Linked DNA regions of Homo sapiens. The main gene of each other region encodes a partner of the protein of the gene in region 3 in a complex. Each region holds a gene or a part of one and is shown on either strand. Other genes may lie near its edges. The genes, in order: ITPR1, CNN1 and PRKG1.

The links.
Region 1: PRKG1 (region 3) and ITPR1 share a complex: the UniProt entries of both Homo sapiens proteins name them as parts of the cGMP kinase signaling complex.
Region 2: PRKG1 (region 3) and CNN1 share a complex: the UniProt entries of both Homo sapiens proteins name them as parts of the cGMP kinase signaling complex.

Annotation. Positions count from the first base shown.
Region 1 is NC_000003.12:4,496,134-4,503,430, reverse strand, and holds part of ITPR1 (inositol 1,4,5-trisphosphate-gated calcium channel ITPR1), read right to left. Parts: intron 1-7,297. UniProt on the Homo sapiens protein: Inositol 1,4,5-trisphosphate-gated calcium channel that, upon inositol 1,4,5-trisphosphate binding, mediates calcium release from the endoplasmic reticulum (ER).
Region 2 is NC_000019.10:11,534,279-11,541,958, reverse strand, and holds the start of CNN1 (calponin-1), read right to left. Parts: upstream 3,109-7,680; 5' UTR 3,032-3,108; coding exon 2,969-3,031; intron 2,665-2,968; exon of another isoform or gene 2,390-2,664; intron 1,975-2,389; exon of another isoform or gene 1,534-1,974; coding exon of another isoform or gene 1,273-1,533; intron 884-1,272; coding exon 762-883; intron 1-761. UniProt on the Homo sapiens protein: Thin filament-associated protein that is implicated in the regulation and modulation of smooth muscle contraction. It is capable of binding to actin, calmodulin and tropomyosin. The interaction of calponin with actin inhibits the actomyosin Mg-ATPase activity.
Region 3 is NC_000010.11:52,295,409-52,299,069, reverse strand, and holds the end of PRKG1 (cGMP-dependent protein kinase 1), read right to left. Parts: 3' UTR 720-3,661; downstream 1-719. UniProt on the Homo sapiens protein: Serine/threonine protein kinase that acts as a key mediator of the nitric oxide (NO)/cGMP signaling pathway. GMP binding activates PRKG1, which phosphorylates serines and threonines on many cellular proteins.

The DNA.
Region 1 (7,297 bases), on a different chromosome or scaffold from region 3:
GAAGCAGGTATTTTTATTTTTACACCTATTCTACAGAAGAGGAAACAGATGCACAGATGTTCCATGTTTTGCCCCTTACCCAAGAAGCAGTCAACACTCGGTACTGCGGAGTCCCCATCCTGTGGCTCACCAGGGCAATACCAATATGACCTGAAAGCAGCTTGGTTTCACTACCTGATTTTTCCACTCCCTTTTATGAATACTCAACAGTTTCCCAAGACAAATGTCCTGCAGAGATTTGTACTGAACAACACCTCAAAAGCTATCAAAAGGAAATGCTTAATATCTCTACATGGTCCTCACGTCACCCTCTGCAATAAAGGGCTTTTCTTTTTTTCTTTTTATTGAGATGGAGTCTCACTCTGCCCCCCAGGCTGGAGTGCAGTGGTGCGATCTCAGCTCACTGCAACCTCCACCTCCTGAATTCAAGCAATTCTCCTGCCTCAGCCTCCCAAGTAGCTGGGACTACAGGTGCCCACCATCATGCCCAGCTAATTTTTTTTGTAATTTTAGTAGAGATGGGGTTTCACCATGTTGGCCAGGCTGGTCTCAAACTCCTGACCTCAGGTGACCCACCCACCTTGGCATCCCAAAGTGCTAGGATTACAGGCGTGAGCCACGATGCCTGGCTGTAAGGCTTTTCAAAGAAAGATGCCAGTTCAAGAAATATTTAATCAGGAGAGGGGTACAGGGGCCAGGCGCAGTGGATCACGCCTGTAATCCCAGCACTTCGGGAGGCCAAGGTGGGCAGGTCATGAGGTCAAGAGATCGAGACAATCCTGGCCAACATGGTGAAATCCCATCTCTACTAAAAATATAAAAATTAGCTAGGCATGGTGGCACATGCCTGTAGACCCAGCTACTCAGGAGGCTGAGGCAGGAGAATCGCTTGAACCTGGCAGGCGGAGGTTGCAGTGAGCTGAGATCAGGCCACTGCACTCCAGCCTGGTGACAGAGCGAGATTCCTTCTCAAAAAAAAAAAAAGGAGAGAGGGGTACAAAAAATTAGTTTTTCCAAGCAGCCTTCAAAGGGAGAAAAAACATATATACAAATTACTTATTGTGTAAGCACTTCCTGTGTGCCAGGTATTCTTATGAGTTAAAAAAACACAAAAGGCCCAAAAGGAAAATAGGTTTTAGGGCCCTGGAGTTTCAAATGACAGATTTTCAAGTATCATAAAAAACTTCCCGGAGGAGGAAGCGTTTGGGCTGGGCCCTAAGGAATAGAAGGATCTGGCGAGGTGGACAGACGGGGGTGGGGAGGGACACATGAGGTACAACATACACACACACGACAAGGCAAACAAATGAATGTCCGTCGTCTGGGTGTCGTATCAGCTTTTTCTGTTCAGAAATATGTGCTTGGGATGCTTTTAAGCTGTTCTTGCAAAAGAAAATCATTTCCCAGACAAAGCTCCTTCTGAAATGCAAAAGAACAGCAAGAAACTTGGAGACTAGTGATATTTTTCTTATGTTCATCTTCTTCTGATAAGCCGCATTATATCAAGCCATCCAGAAGTTCTGCTGATGGGACAGGTCAGAAAGTATGATAAAACATAAGTTCCTCATTGTCCCATGACAGCAGGTGAACAGCAGTGACTTCACAACTCTAAGTAGGGGTACATGTGCCTTCTGGTCTCTTTCTGCCTTCATGTGAACAGCGAATAAAAGCTCCCCCAAATGTAAGCATCAAAGTTCCCATGTTTGTTGGAGAGGGAATCATGTGAAAACTACTTACTCTCACCTCAGGTTGGTGATTAGCCTACCTTTCCACTTCACTGAAAATAAGGCTGCAGGGGAAAAGTACAAAGGTCAGCTTCAGCCTGAACAGGTGAGAGCTAGCCATGAAAAAGCAAAGGAACCACTAAATGACAAGGACTGAAAAAGCACAGGGACAGGCATCCTCCAATGCATATCTTCTCGTATTTTCACGTGTGTGTGAATCACTTGAGGATCTTGCAAAAATGTAGGTTCTCATTCATTGAATGTGGAGTAGGGTCTGAGAGTCTGCAATTGCTAGCAAGTTCCCAGTTAATGTCAGTAACGCTGGTCTGGGGACCACACTTGGAGTGGCAAAGATGTAGTACAGTGTTTCTCAAACTTTTGACTGCAGCTCAGAGTAAGAAAACTATTGAACTTACAACCCAATGTTCATTGTGTATGTGAGACAAAGAATTTTGTTGCAACATACACAGTTCTTTTTAAGTATCCACGAAATACACTTCCATGTTTTCTATTCTAGTGCATGTCATTAAAAAAAAAAAAAGTTTGGCTGGGCCCGGTGACTCACACCTCCAGTCCCAGCACTTTGGGAGGCCAAGGCGAGAGGATCGTTTGAGCCTAGAAGTTCAAGGCCAACCTGGACAATACAGGGAGACCCAATCTCTACAAAAAAAAATTTTTTTTTTAAATTAGCCAGGAGTGGTGGGGCACGCTGGTGGTCCCAACTACTCAGGAGACCGAGGTGAGAGGATCGCTTGTGCCTGGGAGGTTGAGGCTGCAGTGAGCCAACATCATGTCACTGTACTCCAGCCTTGGCAACAGAGCAAGACCCTGTTTCAAAAACTAAAAATAAAAAGTTCATCAAGGCCCACTAAATTGATTTAACAACCTCTTAGTGGGTTTCCACAGAGTTTGAAAAACACGGATACAGAACAAGAGTAACATTCCTGCTCATCTGGGGAGAACAATGATGTCTTAGCCTCAGGACACTAAGGCTAAACCCAAAACCAATTTTTAAAAAAAGTTTAGATTATATTCAGAATTCTTTGCAAAAAGGCAAGGATAGGTCAATTGCATTTTGGAAATACTTTCACCTAGGAAATTCAAGTTTTAAGTTTTCTTCATTTTAATTTGTCTTCTCGTCTGTAAGATGAGGATGACAAGAGTACCTACTTGGCCCTAGGTGGAGATCTCTAAATACCATTTTGGCCAGGCATGATGGTCTCACGCCTGTAATCCCAACACTTTGGGAGGTCAAGGTGAGAACACTGCTTGAGCCTAGGTGTTTGAGAGCATCCTGGACAACATGGCGAGATCCCGTCCCTACAAAAAAACAAAAAAGATTAGCCAGGTGTGGTGGTGAATGCCCATAGTCCCAGCTACTCAGGAGGATTAGGTGAGAGGGTAGCTTGAGCCCAAGAGGCAGAAGTTGCAGTGAGCTGAAATCATGCCACTGCACTCCAGCCTGGGCAGCAGAGTAAGACTCTGTCTCAAAAAAACAAAACAAACAAAATTTCCCTCTTAAAAGAGCAAAGGCTCCTTGGAGAAAAGGCCGATTCTTGGTCTGGGATAAGAAATAGAGAAGATGAGCCTGGAACATCTTGTTATACAGAAATCAAAAAAGCTAGCAAAGACAACAAGGGCTGTGTCGAAATCTCAGGAACTTTACCAGCCCATTTCTCACTGACGAGAGAACTAATGGATTCAGGTAGTGAGCATCAAGGGGTGCTCATATAACAAGAGTAGACATCCAACATCTCACACCCACCTAAGCAAAGTTTACAGAGCAGACTTACTGGAGTCCCAGCTACTGGGAAGGCTGGCACAGGAAGACTGCTTGAGACCAGGAGTCCAAGGCCAGCCGAGGCAACATAGTGAGACCCCTTCTCAATTTAAAAAAGAAAAGAACCTAACTTTGATGAAGCCTCTACATCTAACTACCAAATTATGGTACCCCAAGGGGATACAGAAACATGTTAAACCACATTGCACTGATGCAGTCAGCAAAGTCTAAACTGTGGAGACGTGTATCACCCAGTTTCTTCGATAACAACAAAAAAAATGCATGGAAAAAAGATCTGTAGAGGAAATACAGAGATTAGTGAACATCAACCATTTGTAATGTATTTACCTTATTTGGATCCTAATTCAAACTGTTAAATACGTGTATGTGTAAAATTATTATATTATGTATTTTTTACAAATATCTATTTATATATGTATATATATCAGGGAAGTATAAACCTAGACTCAATAAAAATGAAAGGCCATCAAAGGGGTAGGCACATTTAGAAAAATGAGACACAGATGTCTGTTTATTAAAAAGATGTTCAAGATGTACAAAAGGTAATTTACCAAATGAGAGATACTGTGTTAGTCCCTTTTTATGAAATTTAAATATATACGTAAATTTTACATATGCATACTTAGAGGAAAAGCCTGAAACCCTAATCTCTAATAGTTGAATTGTTTTGTTTTGTTTCATTGCTCCTCTTTATTTCCTAATGTTGCACTACAATGAATATGCTATCTTTTTCTCCTTAAAAAAATTTTTTTAACAGAGATGGGGTCTTGCTGGAGTACAGTAGCTATCACAGATGCAATCATAGTATATTACAGCCTCAAACCCCCGGGCTCAAGTAATTCTCCTGCCTCCGTCCCCTGAGTAGCCGAGTCCAAGGTGTGTGCTACATGAATATGTATATCTTATGTAATAAGTAACAAAATTTGAGGTTTGCTTTAAGTTTGCACATGTGCAGGGGTCCACTTCACTTATTAAGGAGAATCACTGATGTGAAGCTTCTAATTCCTCAAGGATGCTGGAGAGCAGAATATTAGTCCTCCTTGTAAATATCTCTTAAAACGACACTGGATACAACGCAGGGTGGCGGTAAGACATAGGTTTGTGTTGAAACTCCAGGATTATCATTATGTTCTTACAATTTGCTCTCCAAGTCAACTGTACGTTCACCTATTTGTCAAACTTTCCTTTTCTACTGAAGTGAATTACAACTCCAGGTAAGTCCTGTCATTAACCAGACAGTCCAGAAATCTGGGTTTTACCCCCTATCGAGTTCCCATCTGGTATGTGATCCTGCCAACCTTACCAGAGTCTCTTCAGAAAGGACAATGTAGTTTTGTGATGTTGAAAACCACACTGAGAATTCCGTGAGAGTTTACAAGTCCTCAGATAAACCACTGTTGACCTGCAAAATCTGGTCCCTACAGGTCTGGACCTTGACTCCCTCTCCCTCCTGAACTCCTAGCACTCTCCCCTGGCCTTCTTCTCCTTCCTCCAACATGTCACAAACACTCCTATCTCAGGGCCTCTGTACTTGCTGCTCTGACATTTGGAACACACTTTTTCCCTGACAGCTACAGGGTCAACTCGTTTGCCTCCTTCAGATCTGTGCTGAGATGTCATGTAGTAAAGATCTAATCCCCACCTGAGTACTCCCTTAATACCCCTCATCATGTTTTGTTGCTTTTTAAAATTACTGTAAAATATACATAACATAAAATATACCACTTTGAAATGTTATAACTCAGTGGCACTAAGTACATTCACACTGTTGTGTGACATCACCACCATCCATTTCCAGAACTTTTTCATCTTTCCAAACTGAAACTCTATCCTCAATAAACACTAACTCCCCCTTCCTGTCTTCTATCTCCCCCAGCAATCCCCATTCTACTTTCTGTCTGCAGGGATCTGACTACTCTAGATGCCTCTATAAGAAAAATCATAAAATATGTGTCCTTTTATTTCTGGCTTGTTTCACTTAGCATGTTTTCAAGGTTCATCCACATTGTAGCATGTGTCAGAATTCCCTTTTTAAGGCTGAATAATATTCCATTGTATGTATATTTCACATTTTATCTGTTCATTCATCAGTAGACTTGTGTTGTTTCTACCTTTTGGCTACTGTGATAATGCTTCTACTGACACAGGTGTACAAATATCTGCTCACGTCCCTACTTTCAATTTTTTAAAGTATATACCTTGAAGTGGAATTGCTGGGACATATAGTAATTTTATGTTTAATTTTTTTTAGTAACTGCCATGCTGTTTTCCACAGCAGCTTCACCATTTTACATTCCCACCGGCAATGCACAAGGGATCTAATTTCTCCACTTGTTATTTTCTGTTCCCCCTTTAACCAGTTTTCTTTTTCTCCATAGCTTTTACTACCTCTAATACTATAATACTTACTTGTTTATTTATATTGGCTGCCTCCCACCAACTGAGATGTAAGCCTCTTGGGAACGGGATGGTTTGTTCATTGCTATATCCTGAGCACCTGGAATACATCTTAGTACATAGCAGGTGCTCAAGAAATTTGTTGAATAAAGAATAAAACATTTGAATCGCACACAACTTGAACAGGTCTTAGAGTCTGTTAAATAGATTTACCACACCATGTGCCTTAAACTACATCCAATTTAGAAATCTCAAAGTTGAATGGGTGACGGTTTCAGTGGTGTATCTGGCTTATTCTCATTAGCAATCATCTCAGAACCACAGAAACCAAGAGAATTGTAAGGAATCATAGAAGTTATGTCATTCACATCACCGACTTCAAGCCTTAATTGCATTCATCAATTGAGCTATGCACAAACTTAAAACAGCAAAAATGGAAAAAAAAAAAACTGCATGGACTTCTGGTTAACAGACAGCCTGCAAATGCAATGTGTTTTATTTTTAAAAATCAAACCAATAGTAAACAAGATAGACACTGGCCCTGTGGAGACTCCTTAATTAGATGTAGCCAAAGACAGCTTGACCTAGAAACCTAACTCCAGGCCTACTTTTATTTTGGCTGTTTTTTTCTGTTGTTCATATTTGGTGTTTGTTTTATTTTTGTTTGTTTTCTAAGAGCTGCTCATGAAGAAATCAGACAGTTTCCATGATATCTTTATAAATGAGTTGAAAAGCCATGTGATATTCCCCCCTCTGGAAGTCAGTTGGTTGCACACCATTGGATTAAAGGTTTCTTTTTTATCTTTCTCTCTGCCCACTCTCCTCCCTCCCCGCAATACCAACACCCTGATCTTCCTCACTTAAAAATATTTTGAAGAAAAGACTCTTGATCTTTCTGTGGAGTTCATCTATCTCTTTTTTTCTAAGCAACCATTCCACTTCTCATTCCTAAAGAAAAGATGCCAATTCCCTCCAAAAGACAATCACTTGGTTTAAATAGATACCATTGTCAACCCCAAATGACTTTCATGGGTCTCAAGGCAAGAGCCAGAGTAATTCACTTAGAACATGAAGAACTTTCCCTGCCTGATAAGAATGATATCTTGAAAGGATTTTCTGTTCTGATTTGAATTATTCAAAGAGCAGATTGTACTTTCAGTGTACATATGCATACACACACACACACACACACATGAACTTGAAAGAAAAAATGGAGAACAAAAACGTCTGCACAACTGGCTGCAAAGCAAACTGGAAGGTATATGAAAAGGTATCAACATTTCACATTGCAGTCTAACTGCAGTTTAAACTTTCGAATTATTCAGATGGGGAAACGCCTGATCCTTTTAACCTACTCAGATTCTTTGATGTAAAC
Region 2 (7,680 bases), on a different chromosome or scaffold from region 3:
AGACCAGCCTAGTCAACATGGTGAAACTCCATCTCTACTGAAAAAAAAAAAAAAAAAACAAAAATTAACCGGGCATGGTGGCACGTGCCTGTAATCCCAGCACTTTGGGAGGCTGAGGTAGGTGGATCAATTGAGGTCAGGAGTTCGTAACCATCCTGGCCAACATGGTGAAACCCCATCTCTACTTTAAAAAAATACAAAAATTAGCCAGGCATGGTGGTGCGTGCCTGTAATCCCAGCTATTGGGGAGGCTGAGGCAGGAGAATCACTTAAACCCTGGAGGCGGAGGTTGCAGTGAGCCGAGATTGTGTCTCTGCACTGCAGCCTGGGCAACAGAACAAGACTGTATCTCAAAAAAACAAAAAGAAAACAGAAAGAAAACCAGGGCCTCCTTTAATTATTGCTGCACATCTCTCCTCACATCACCAAGCCAGCCATGAACAGCTGTTGGCTGCTGCCTTTTAGCTGTGACCGCTCTTTCTGGGGACTCTGGCGGCCACAGATGGGCCTACCCTATATAGCATGGTGGTTAAGATTCTAGAGTCATTTCCCTTGAAACCACGTGGGACTTGGTGCAATGCATTTCACCTGAGCCTCAGTTTTCTGTGCCTGTTAAATGGGCACAATGATTACTGGCCACCCCAAAGGTATCCAATAGAAAGTGTTCAACTCAGTTCCAGGATCATGGTTGTTTTGGGGGTTGAGGGGCTGCATGGAGTTGGGGGATGTTGCAGGGTCTCGGCTTCGAGAGCCTCACTCACTCGCAAAGAATGATGCCATCTTTGAGGCCGTCCATGAAGTTGTTGCCGATGCGACGGCCTGTCACCCCCTCGATCCACTCTCTCAGCTCCTGCTCCCGCTGGTGGTCATACTTCTGGGCCAGCTGGGGCGAGGGGAGGGCAGGGGGCACAGAGAAAGGGGTGAGGATGCATTGGGGGCAGCCTGGGCTCCCTGGGTCCTGTCTGAACTTCCTAGAGCCTGATCTCCCTCGTCCTTCCCAACTAAGGCAATTTTGCCCCAGATCCATAGTTGGGGGATGGGGGCTGGGGCGGGCTGAGAGCCAGGGCTGAGGTGGCACCTGCCCAGGGGGCCATTCCGGGCATTCTGAGGTTTGGCACCAGGGAATGTAGATGAGGGGTGGGGTGTGGGGAGCTGGATCCTCTGAGCTAGAGGGGTGGCACCCGGCACCCTGGTTTTTCGCCCAGGCCAAACTTGGGGCTTCTCTTCCTCTAGCCCTGCCCCCTCTGTGCCCCCTGTTGGAAGAGAGGGCACCTCAGGAAGGGAAGAAGGATGTCTAAGGAGGTGTCCCTGGGTGCTGGCTTGCAGAGGAGTGCTGGTCATACATCTCTGTCTCTCCGTGTCCCCCAGGTCTTCAGCTCCAGGGCTCTGTCTCTGGTTAGTGGTGGGGGCTTGTCTCTGTCTTAGCCCCCACCCCTTGCACGTCTGTATGTCTCTCTCCCTCTTATCCCCCCGACTCCTCTGTCTCTCTCTTCCCCAGCGCTGTCTTTTCTTGGCCCAGTCTTGGGTCCCCATCTCTCTAGGTGGCTAGTCCCTGTCTGGCCAGGGGTAGGGCTCCTGGGTCTTGTATATCTGCCTCTCTAGGTCTTTCTCTGTCTCCAGGTTTCCTGCCTGGGGTGGGGGTGGTGGGGCTCTGTCTCCTCTCCCTGCCCCTCCATCCTTGTCTAGGTCTTATCTCGCTCCTGGCTCGCCCTCCCCCGTCTGTCCCTAGGGTGTCTCAGGCTCCCAGTATCTCTGTCTGCCTCTCCCCCCACCTCCCTGCTTTTCCCTCTCTCCACTGTCCCCCCCCTCCCCCACTCCACTCCCATTTCTCCAGAACCCTCCGCCCAAGCCCAGCCAGGCTCCCAGCCCCTAGGGGACCGGGCTGCCTCTTCTTCTCCCGGGTGAGTGGGGGGAGGTGGGAGGGGCGGCCCCCTCACCTGGCCCTGGCCCTGCCGCCCCCCACGCCACCAGCCCGGCTTTATAAAGCAAACCGGCCCTTATATAGCGTGGCCCGGGCTCCCCGAGGCCGCCTTATAAGGCGCGGCGTCTCTGCGCGGCTCTGCGCGGCTCTGGGGCCGGCGCTGGGGGGGAGGAGGGCGGCGCTGGGATCTGTCTCTCGCCCGAGGACCCGCCCCCCACCAGCCCCCTCCTCCAGCCCCGAGATCCCTCGACCCAGGTTCCAACCCAGTCCCCCACTTCCTCACCATGGGACCCTGGGAAAAGCCACCCTGAGCCTCAGTGTTCCCCTCTGTCAAATGGGGCAGGAACTCCTCCCTCGGCAATACTGTTGGGGCGATTCCAGTGGGCTGGAAACTTAAAGTTCTCCAGCTGGGAGAAGCTGAGCCCATCCTGGTGTATGGGGGGTGAGTCCAGGGTCCGAGCGCTGTACCTGCTTTACCTGGGACCCCAGCTATTTGCCTCTCCTCTCCGAACCTCAGTTTACCCAACCATAGCATGAAGGTGGTGTCCAGGTATCTTCCTAGCTCCACAGTCAGGAGACCCCTGCCGCACTTCTGATGCCCGCTTCCTGCCTTTCACCGTCCCCCTCTGTCTTCAGGATCTCCCACACTTTCACGGCGTCACTTCCCAGGTACCCCAGCACTCAAGCGCTCCCCAATTTCTTTGTCAGGCCGGGGGATATGGAAAAATCAACAAGTCTTCCCCCTATGTTGTTCCCCCCAAGAACACGAAGGGTTAACAGAAGACTGATCAGGTGGGTATCTTTGCAATGGACTGACCCCCTCTGTTTATGTGTGGCTGTGTGCCCCCCCATTCCAGCCCCAACCATAGCTGGGGGCTCCGGGATGTTCAGGGGGAGACAGGCAGCCCCTATCCCATATCACTCCCTTTTCCCCTCTCAGTTTCCAAGTCACATAGGATAGGCAGGAGGGGGTTCAAGGGACCCCAAGCTCAGGGCTCTGGCCTGGCAGGACGTGTGGGCCAGGCCAGGGAGGCCCTCCAGCCCTACCTTGTTCTTAACCTCGGCTGACAGCCCGTAGGCAGGGCCTCGGTTGAAGTGAGCAGAGGACATGCTGGCCGGTGGGCTCTGGCGGGGGCAGTGGCGGCACTGACGCTGAGAACAGAGGCAGCGGCTGAAGTTCCGTCTGCACACTCTTCCCTCCTCACATGTTTTTGAAGCTCCGGAGGCGACCCGGGTCTCTTCCAGGGCCGTTCCATTGGCTGTAGGGGCCTGCCAAGGGGCGGGGCACCTCCCCCCACAACCTCAGCTGCCTTCCCCTCCCCTTGTGATGTCAGGCCCTTGGTATTGGGAGCTGATTGTGTCATTGTTTCCACCTAGGGGGGCAGCCTGCGTTATTCTGGGGGGGCTTGGTCAGACAGAGACCAGCCTTCTTCCACCCACCCCTCCCACTGTCCATTGGGCCTCTGGCTGGGTCTGAGTCTCTTTGTCTCTGAGGTCATCTCTCTTTATCTCTCTGGAGTCTTGAAGCAGGACTGACACCCAAGGTAGTTTAGTGAGCACCATCCCGGGTTTATCTCCAGATACCAACAGTCTATAGCCTTAGGTAAGCCCCTTCTCCTCTCTGGGCCTCTATGGCCACATCTGTAAAATGGGCTAACGATAGTGCCTGCCTCATGGGAGAGTTGTAAAGATCAGAAGAATATGCCTGTTACATGCCCAGCACAGTGCCCGGCACAGCAGAGGGACTCGGGCCATAGCAGTCTTTTTAAGGCAAGGTTTCACTCTGTCCCCTCGGCTGGAGTGCAGTGGCACAATCACAGCTCACTGCAGCCTTGACCTCCCAGGCTCAAGTGATCCTCCCATCTCAGCCCATCCAAGTAGTTAGAATTGCAGACTTGTGCCACCAACCTGGCTAATTTTATTTTATTTTTTTAGAGATGGGGTCTCGCTATGTTGCCCGGGGTCTCGCTATGTTGCCCAGGCTGGTCTCAAATTTCTGGGCTCAAGCAATCTGCCCGCCTTGGCCTCCCAAAACGCTGGGATTTACAGGCATGAGTCACCATGCCCAGCCTATAGCATTCTTTATGCTGAGGGTCCAGCACCCCAGTTCTGTCTCCTCCAGCCCCTCATAAGGACCTGGGGGAGAAGAGATCCTGGGTCTCACCCTCCCCATCCACTTGTGTGTCACCTGAACTACAGGGTGACTTTGTTGGCAAGTCCCAGGCCGTGAACTGTGTCCCTGTCAAACAGCCCTACCCAGCCAGATCTCACCCCTGGACCACAGGGGTGGATGCTATGCCCACATCATGCCCCACATGGCAAGGCCATGTTTGTGACACTTGGATGACATGTCTGCAACCTGCCACACACTAATGATATGTTGAGGATATGCAGTTTATCGGTCACATGCTAATGGCATGGCTGCAATATGCCACAGACTACAGCCCTTATGTCAGGCCATGTTCCAACTCTGTACATATATCCATTCAATTCTCATGACGCCCTCAGAGATGGACACTGTTATTATTATTATTATTATTATTATTATTATTATTTGGAGACAGAGTCTCTATTCCCCAGGCTGGAGTGCAGTGATGCTATCTCGGCTCACTGCAACCTCCACCTCCTGGGTTCAAGCGATTCTCCTGCCTCAGCCTCCCAAGTAGCTGGGATGACAGGTGTCTGCCACCACGACTGGCTATTTTTTGTATTTTTAGTAGAGACGGGGTTTTGCCATGTTAGCCAGGCTGGTCTCGAACTCCTGACCTCAGTTGATCTGCCCACCTCGGCCTTGCAAAGTGCTGGGATTACAGGCGTGAGCCACCGTGCCCAGCTGACACTGTTATTATTAATACAAGTACTTTGCTTTACAGGTGGGGAAACTGAGGCACGGGGGCTTGGAATCACTTTTTCAGCGTCACACAGCAGGCCAGGGGCAGAGGAGAATTTGAGACCATGCTCCATGAACCTCAACTATGAGGCTAAGGTGGGGTTTCTCAACCTCCACACTGTTGACAGCTGAGGCTGGATAATTCTTCATGGTTGGGGGGCTGCCTTGGGCATTCATTGTAAGACTTCAAGCAGCATGCCTGGCCTCTACCTGCTACATGCCAGTAGCACTCTCTTAGTCCTAATAAACAGAAATGTTGAGGCACTGCGGCAGGACCCTGTAGTCCCAGCTACTAAGGAGGCTGAGGTGGGAGGATCCCTTGAGCCCAGGAGTTTGAGAACCATCTGGCCAAGATAGCAAGACCATGGTCTCTAAAAAAGAAAAATTAAAAGAAGAAATGTCTACACACATTGCCAATGTCCCATGATTGGGGTCGGGGTGGAAGCAGATCACCCCTGTTTGCCAACCACTGAGCTAAGGCAATGTGCTAGTTGATGGCATGTCATGATATGTTGAACATACACGAAAATACATAAAATACGAGGCCAAGGCGGGAGGATCGCTTGAGCCCTGGAGTTCGAGACCCGAGACCAGCTTAGGCAACATAGCGAGACCCCGTCTCTATTTAAAAAAAAAAAAAAGAAAAAATAGAAAGTACATAAAATGAGCTAACAATTAGCACCTGCTACGTACTAAGAGCTTTGAGCCTGTTAACTCATTCCTCACGACAGCCTTATGAGGTGGGTCTATACGAGGCACAGAGAGGTGACGCCGAATGGCCGGGTCACACAGCTCGAGGGTGGCAGGGGCGGGATTCGAACGCGCAGATTCCTGGATCCCTCCCAAACTGAGCGGCCCTCGGGGGCCGCAGTTCGCTACTGCGCATGTGAGGACCTGCAGCCGGCGCCCCCTGGCGGCCCGGGAGGGGCGGGGGCGGGACCTGGCGAGGTCCAGGCGGCGGTGACGTCACGCGATGACTCACTCGGCCCCGCCCCCCGGCCCGCGGCCTCTTGGCCATTTATAGAATCTGCACGGACTCTGAAGTCACGGCCCAGGCACGACGGGGGCGGGGTGGGGGAGCTCTTGGCGTGCCCCCCAACGGGGCAGCCCCGGGTACCCCCAGGGGGCAGCCCTTTCGGGGACTGCCTTGTCCCTCTGATTGTAGTAGGTCTGTGTCTCTGTATCTCCGTCTCTGGGTCGCTGAGCCTTTTTCTGTCTCTGCCTTTGTCTCTGTGTCTCTGTTTCTGTGCCTGGTCTTTGAGTCATTCTGTTTCTCTTCATGTCGCTGTCGCTGTATTGTCCGTCTCTCTTCGCGTCTCTGTCTGGTAGATGGGGGTAGAGGCATTAGAGGGGGCTGATCCCATATCGAGGCCCCAATCCCAGTAGACACCCGAGTGTCATCCCTTATTCGCTCCTTTCTGGCATTTTCCAGGCTCTAGCCCCTCTGTGCCTCAGTTTACCATCTAAATGAGAAGTGTAGGATCTTGTAAGAGGCACGGTTTCCCGAAGGGTCTAGGACAGTCATTGTAGGAAAGCCATGCCTCTCCTCAACTTCAGGGGACCCCCTAAAACCTTCCTGATGCTCAGAACCATTTAAAACTCACACTTGGCCGGGCGTGGTTTCTCACGCCTGTAATCCCAGCACTTTGAGAGGCCAAGGCGGGTGGATCACCTGAGGTCAGTAGTTCAAGACCAGCCTGACCAACATGGTGAAACCCCGTGTCTACTAAAAATACAAAATTAGCCGGGCATGGTGGTACATGCCTGTAATCCCAGCTACTCGGGAGGCTGAGGCAGGAGAATTGCTTGAACCCGGCATGTCAGGCAGAGGTTGCAGTGAGCCAAGATCACACCACTGCACTCCAGCCTGGGCCACGGGAGTGAGACTCTGACTCAAAAAATGTAAAAATAAAAATAAAACCCACACTCACACGTGTTTGTCTGTGTGTTTTGGGGAAAGTCAAAGCCCTGCTCTGCACCGGCCTATCTTGGCATCCTGCTCTGCAAGCTCCCTCCTCACGAAGCTTTCCTATCCAGAAATCTGGCAGAGGCTCTTGTTCCTAAAGGCTTCTGTTATGGGAACACTCACTCCATGCCAGCCACAATCTCTTTTAATCCTCACCATCACCTTCTGAGGGTAGAAACTCATAGGTCCATTTTATAGATGGGAAACTCAAGGTTCAGAGAAGCCAAGCCACCCTCCCAGGTAACACTGTTTGTACCTTTTCTTCCAAGTCCCTCCAGATGTGCTGTTTCTTCTTCTTCTTCTCCCTCTTCTTCTTCTTCTTCTTTCTTCTTTCTTCTTTCTTCTCCTTCTCCTTCTCCTTCTTTCTTCTTTCTTCTTTCTTTTCTTCCTCTTCCTCTTCCGCTGCTGCTGCTGCTCCTTCTCCTTCTCCTTCTTCTTCCTCTTCTTCTTCCTCTTCCTCTTTTTCTTCTTGTTCTCCTTCTTCTTCCTCTTCTTCTGCTGCTGCTTCTCCTCCTCCTCCTTCTTCTTCTTTCTTCTTTCTTCCTTCTCCTCCTCCTTCTCCTTCTTCCCCTTCTCCCTTCTCTCTTCTCCCTTCTCCTTATTTCTTCTTCTTCTTCTCCTTTTTTTTTTTTTTTTGAGTCAGAGTATCGCTCTGTCGCTCAGGTTGGAGTGGCATGATCTCGGTTCACTGCAACCTCCACCTCCTGGTTTCAAGCAATTCTGGAGCCTCAGCCTCCCAAGTAGCTGGGATTACAGGCACCCGCTACCACGCTGGGCTACAGATGTGTTTCTTGAGTCCCCAAACATGTTCCCACCTCAGGGTCTTTACAATAGCAGTTCCTGCCACCTGGAACACATTTCTGCAAGATGCCTGCATGGCCTCTCCCCAACTTCATTCAGTCT
Region 3 (3,661 bases):
CTTTATCTGAAAAAGTTAACTGAATTTCTAGTTTTCATCAAACAAGGGTTTTCAACTCACTGTCACTGGCAATGTGAGGTCAAAAAGACAAAAACAATGTAATTGAGAGAATCTTCATGCTGCAGCCAGTTTTCATGTGTGCATCATTTACTGCAGAGAAGGACAAAGGGATGTAGAAAGAATATGTTTAACTAGGCTTTGGAGAGTTGAATTTGTTGTAATCATATTGTTCCCCAAATGTTTCTTCTTTGTGCATATGATGAAGCCAAGGAATCAGGTGAAAAATCCTTGGACAAAGACTCATGAAGTTGCTTTTCATATGAAATCATTTCCTCCTAGGATGTAGTAATATACAAGAATTGTCCCTTTGATTGTTTTGCCTAGTACAGAGTTTGACTAGGGATAGCCCAAAAAAGGACTGTGTGGTGGTCATGCTCAGAAATCTGCTAATTTCTGAGTTTGTGTGAATATCTATATTCACTTTGCTTTTCACACTGGATGGCCCAACATTATTCCTATGAATTCTTTAAAACCAATTTGTTGGATTAGTTTTATATTAGATTATAATATAGTATATTATTTCATGAGGGATGCTTGGATTATAGGTATTTCCTACTTTGTTATAGTGACATTCTACAACAGCACTACCTGGTATTTCATCTAGTATGATATACCAATTCTATTCTTGGAATCTTGTCTGGAATTAAACATCAACTAAGTTCAAAAGTAATTATTTTTTTATTTCAACTCTATAAAGTATACAACAGGCACTCAGCAATTACAGCTGCAGGAAAAATACAGAGCAAATCAAAGCAGGTAAATTTATGAAAAAGTTTTTAATCTACATCAAAAGAGTGCAAGTGGTCAATGACCATTTGATGACAGTTTGTTGCATTCTGACTAACAAAGAACTCTTTCATGTAGAACAAATTGTAAGAGGACAATCAAATAACCATAGCTGTAAGAATACAAAAGAACTGACCAGTTGTAAAAACATCATACATTGAAATAAATTTGATAGATGATGCTTAAAGAAATGTCCCTTTACTCAGAAAGCCCCAACCTCTGAGTCATTGCCAAGGTCCCAGAGCTCTGTCTGTTGATTCAGGGGCAGAGAGGAGGGCTAACAACACACTTTCAATGTTTTGCTTTCTAGGTCTGTTGAAAACTTGCCTCGTAAATGATTTGCATATACAAGAACTCGGAAAAAGCATCCTGTTTTGTTGAGAGGTGCACCAAGTGACTTTTTCATCATTGGTTTCATAACGAGGTCTGGTTAGCAGTCATTTCCAATTTTTCTTTTCGGTTGGACCATTGTCAATGGAGTCTATAAAATGAGATATGTTAGAACTTGACTGCACTAATTTATTTTTACAGAATCTGCACAGCTTAGCAAAACAGGAATACCTGTATACAGACTGATAGAATGTCATATATTAATTTGACCTGCACATACATTTATACATTTCACAGAAATGACGCTGTATCTCATTAACAGATACACAGCTCTGGTACATTTAACAGAAATAAGAGAACAACTTCATCATTTCTGTAATTCATCAATATTATATAATAAAGGCTTATAAATTGTTAGCAGAAAGAACTGTAAAACGCAGCAAGCTAAGAAAGGACAACATTTTGAGGTGTGTTTGTCTTTGTCATGCAGCATAACACCAAATTTGTTTTTTTAATAGGATGCCATGAATTTAAGGCACTTGCAACAATGCCAGATAGCCAGGTCATGTTCTAAACTATGGGACAGATGAATAACAGTACAGTTGACATAATTTTCAATAATACTGACAATTATGACATTAATTCAAGTCTACTTGGACCTAAAAACATTATTCAATACAAATAAAATGAAATAATAATGCTGTGAAACACTAAAAAAAGTTATATGTACCACAAAATATCACACAAAAATACCTATTTACATAAATATTTGTCTGTGGTCCTATAGTGAAAGAAAACGTTGTTATGGATAATGCACAGATCACCTCTATTGTATGAAATCAGTTCTAATATCCTTATTTTCAACATGGTAGCTGACTTCATTAAATTTGTTTACCATCAGTTCAGTCATTTAGAAATGAAACAGGAAAAATTCAATAGTTGAGTTTATTACTACACATGTGTAATTCACATGCATATTCCACAATTTTAGGTAAAAATTATGACTTGTAAAGAATATAACCAAAATAAATTTGTTTTGAATGCCACATGGATCTGATTCATGTCTTAATAAGAAAGAAGATATAAACATAAAAAGCATGTATAGCGTTTTTCCAGAAATTATTTTTTCAAATGTATTCAATCTATCCCAGTTGTTTTAATGTTGCTTCCCTTGGCAGTTTCAGTTTTCCTGTGAGTCAAGACACACAGAAAGCCCTTATTTCCCATACTCAACACATTAACAAGAAAATCATATAACAAATCAAACAAGTTGGCACTATTCTAACTTATCCAGATGTTCTTTAATGTAAGAAAATAGAGGGGTTGTGAAAAATTCAGAAATAAAGTGAGATGCATTTTATGGAACTGACCATGAATTTTAGCCCTAGAGTCTTCATTAAGACAAGATTTAAATCCTAAAAATTCAATGTTGACAAAATTAGACGAATGTTTTCTGTTGGTACATCTTGGAAGATGTAGTTTACCTTTATTTTGTGGTAATTACTTCAGACATCAAATGCAATGCTATGGGTGAAATGAACAAAGATGCAGTAACAAGTGGGAGAAACAATCTACAGTTTCTTGTGCTGAATGCTACTTCTTCCTTCTCCATTGAACTTATTCATATTGGTTGTCTTAGACTTGAACCATAGTTCCAAAATCCATAGCAAGTGCTAATCTCTGGGACTTTGGGGATTTTTAAAACGTTATAGGAGCAGATTCTCTTTCCAAATAACAAGGTAAATTTAGTATTCTAGCAAGCCTTTCTTTAGCAAGCCTAAACCACATTATCTTTCAACAAAAGTTACTGAACATTCACTATAATATTGGAATTACATATTTTTAAAAAGCCAATTAAAAATATAAAACTCTTGAAATAACATTCATAGCTAGATTTTAGGTTGATATGTTTAATTTTATATTCTAAAATCTGTAGAAAACAGTGGATATCTTGGGGAATAGACCAATTTGGAGAAATTGTAAGGGACGGAAAACTCCAAAAATACAAGAATAACAATATTTTAGGATTAAAGTTCTAATTGAAGTTTATACCCTTTTCATTTTATCCTCCAAAATTTTAAGAATATTATATTTTCATAAGATACCATATTCTAAGGTAGTTTTGAGTAAGAACAATTCAAGCAAAATTTATAAGATTTGCCTTCTTAGTTAAGGTGTAATGATCTAATTGGACTTTTTCTTCCAGAAATGTAGGCGTTTGATTGATTAAAAAGAAAACTCTACTGAAAAAAAAAGCAAGCGTCAATTTAATATACCAAATTCACACAGGGCCAAAACAGAATGACAGCTTGAAAGCTTCTATATTTTTCTTCACAGGTATAATGTAATTTTGTCCAGGAAATGCTTCCAAATGGCTGAGTTACTTATGACAGCTAATAATAGTCAACTGGCATGCCAGTGAAGGACTCAGTTTAATTTGTGGATTCTTTTCTCCATGTGAATAAAGTAAATCAGCTTGACATTT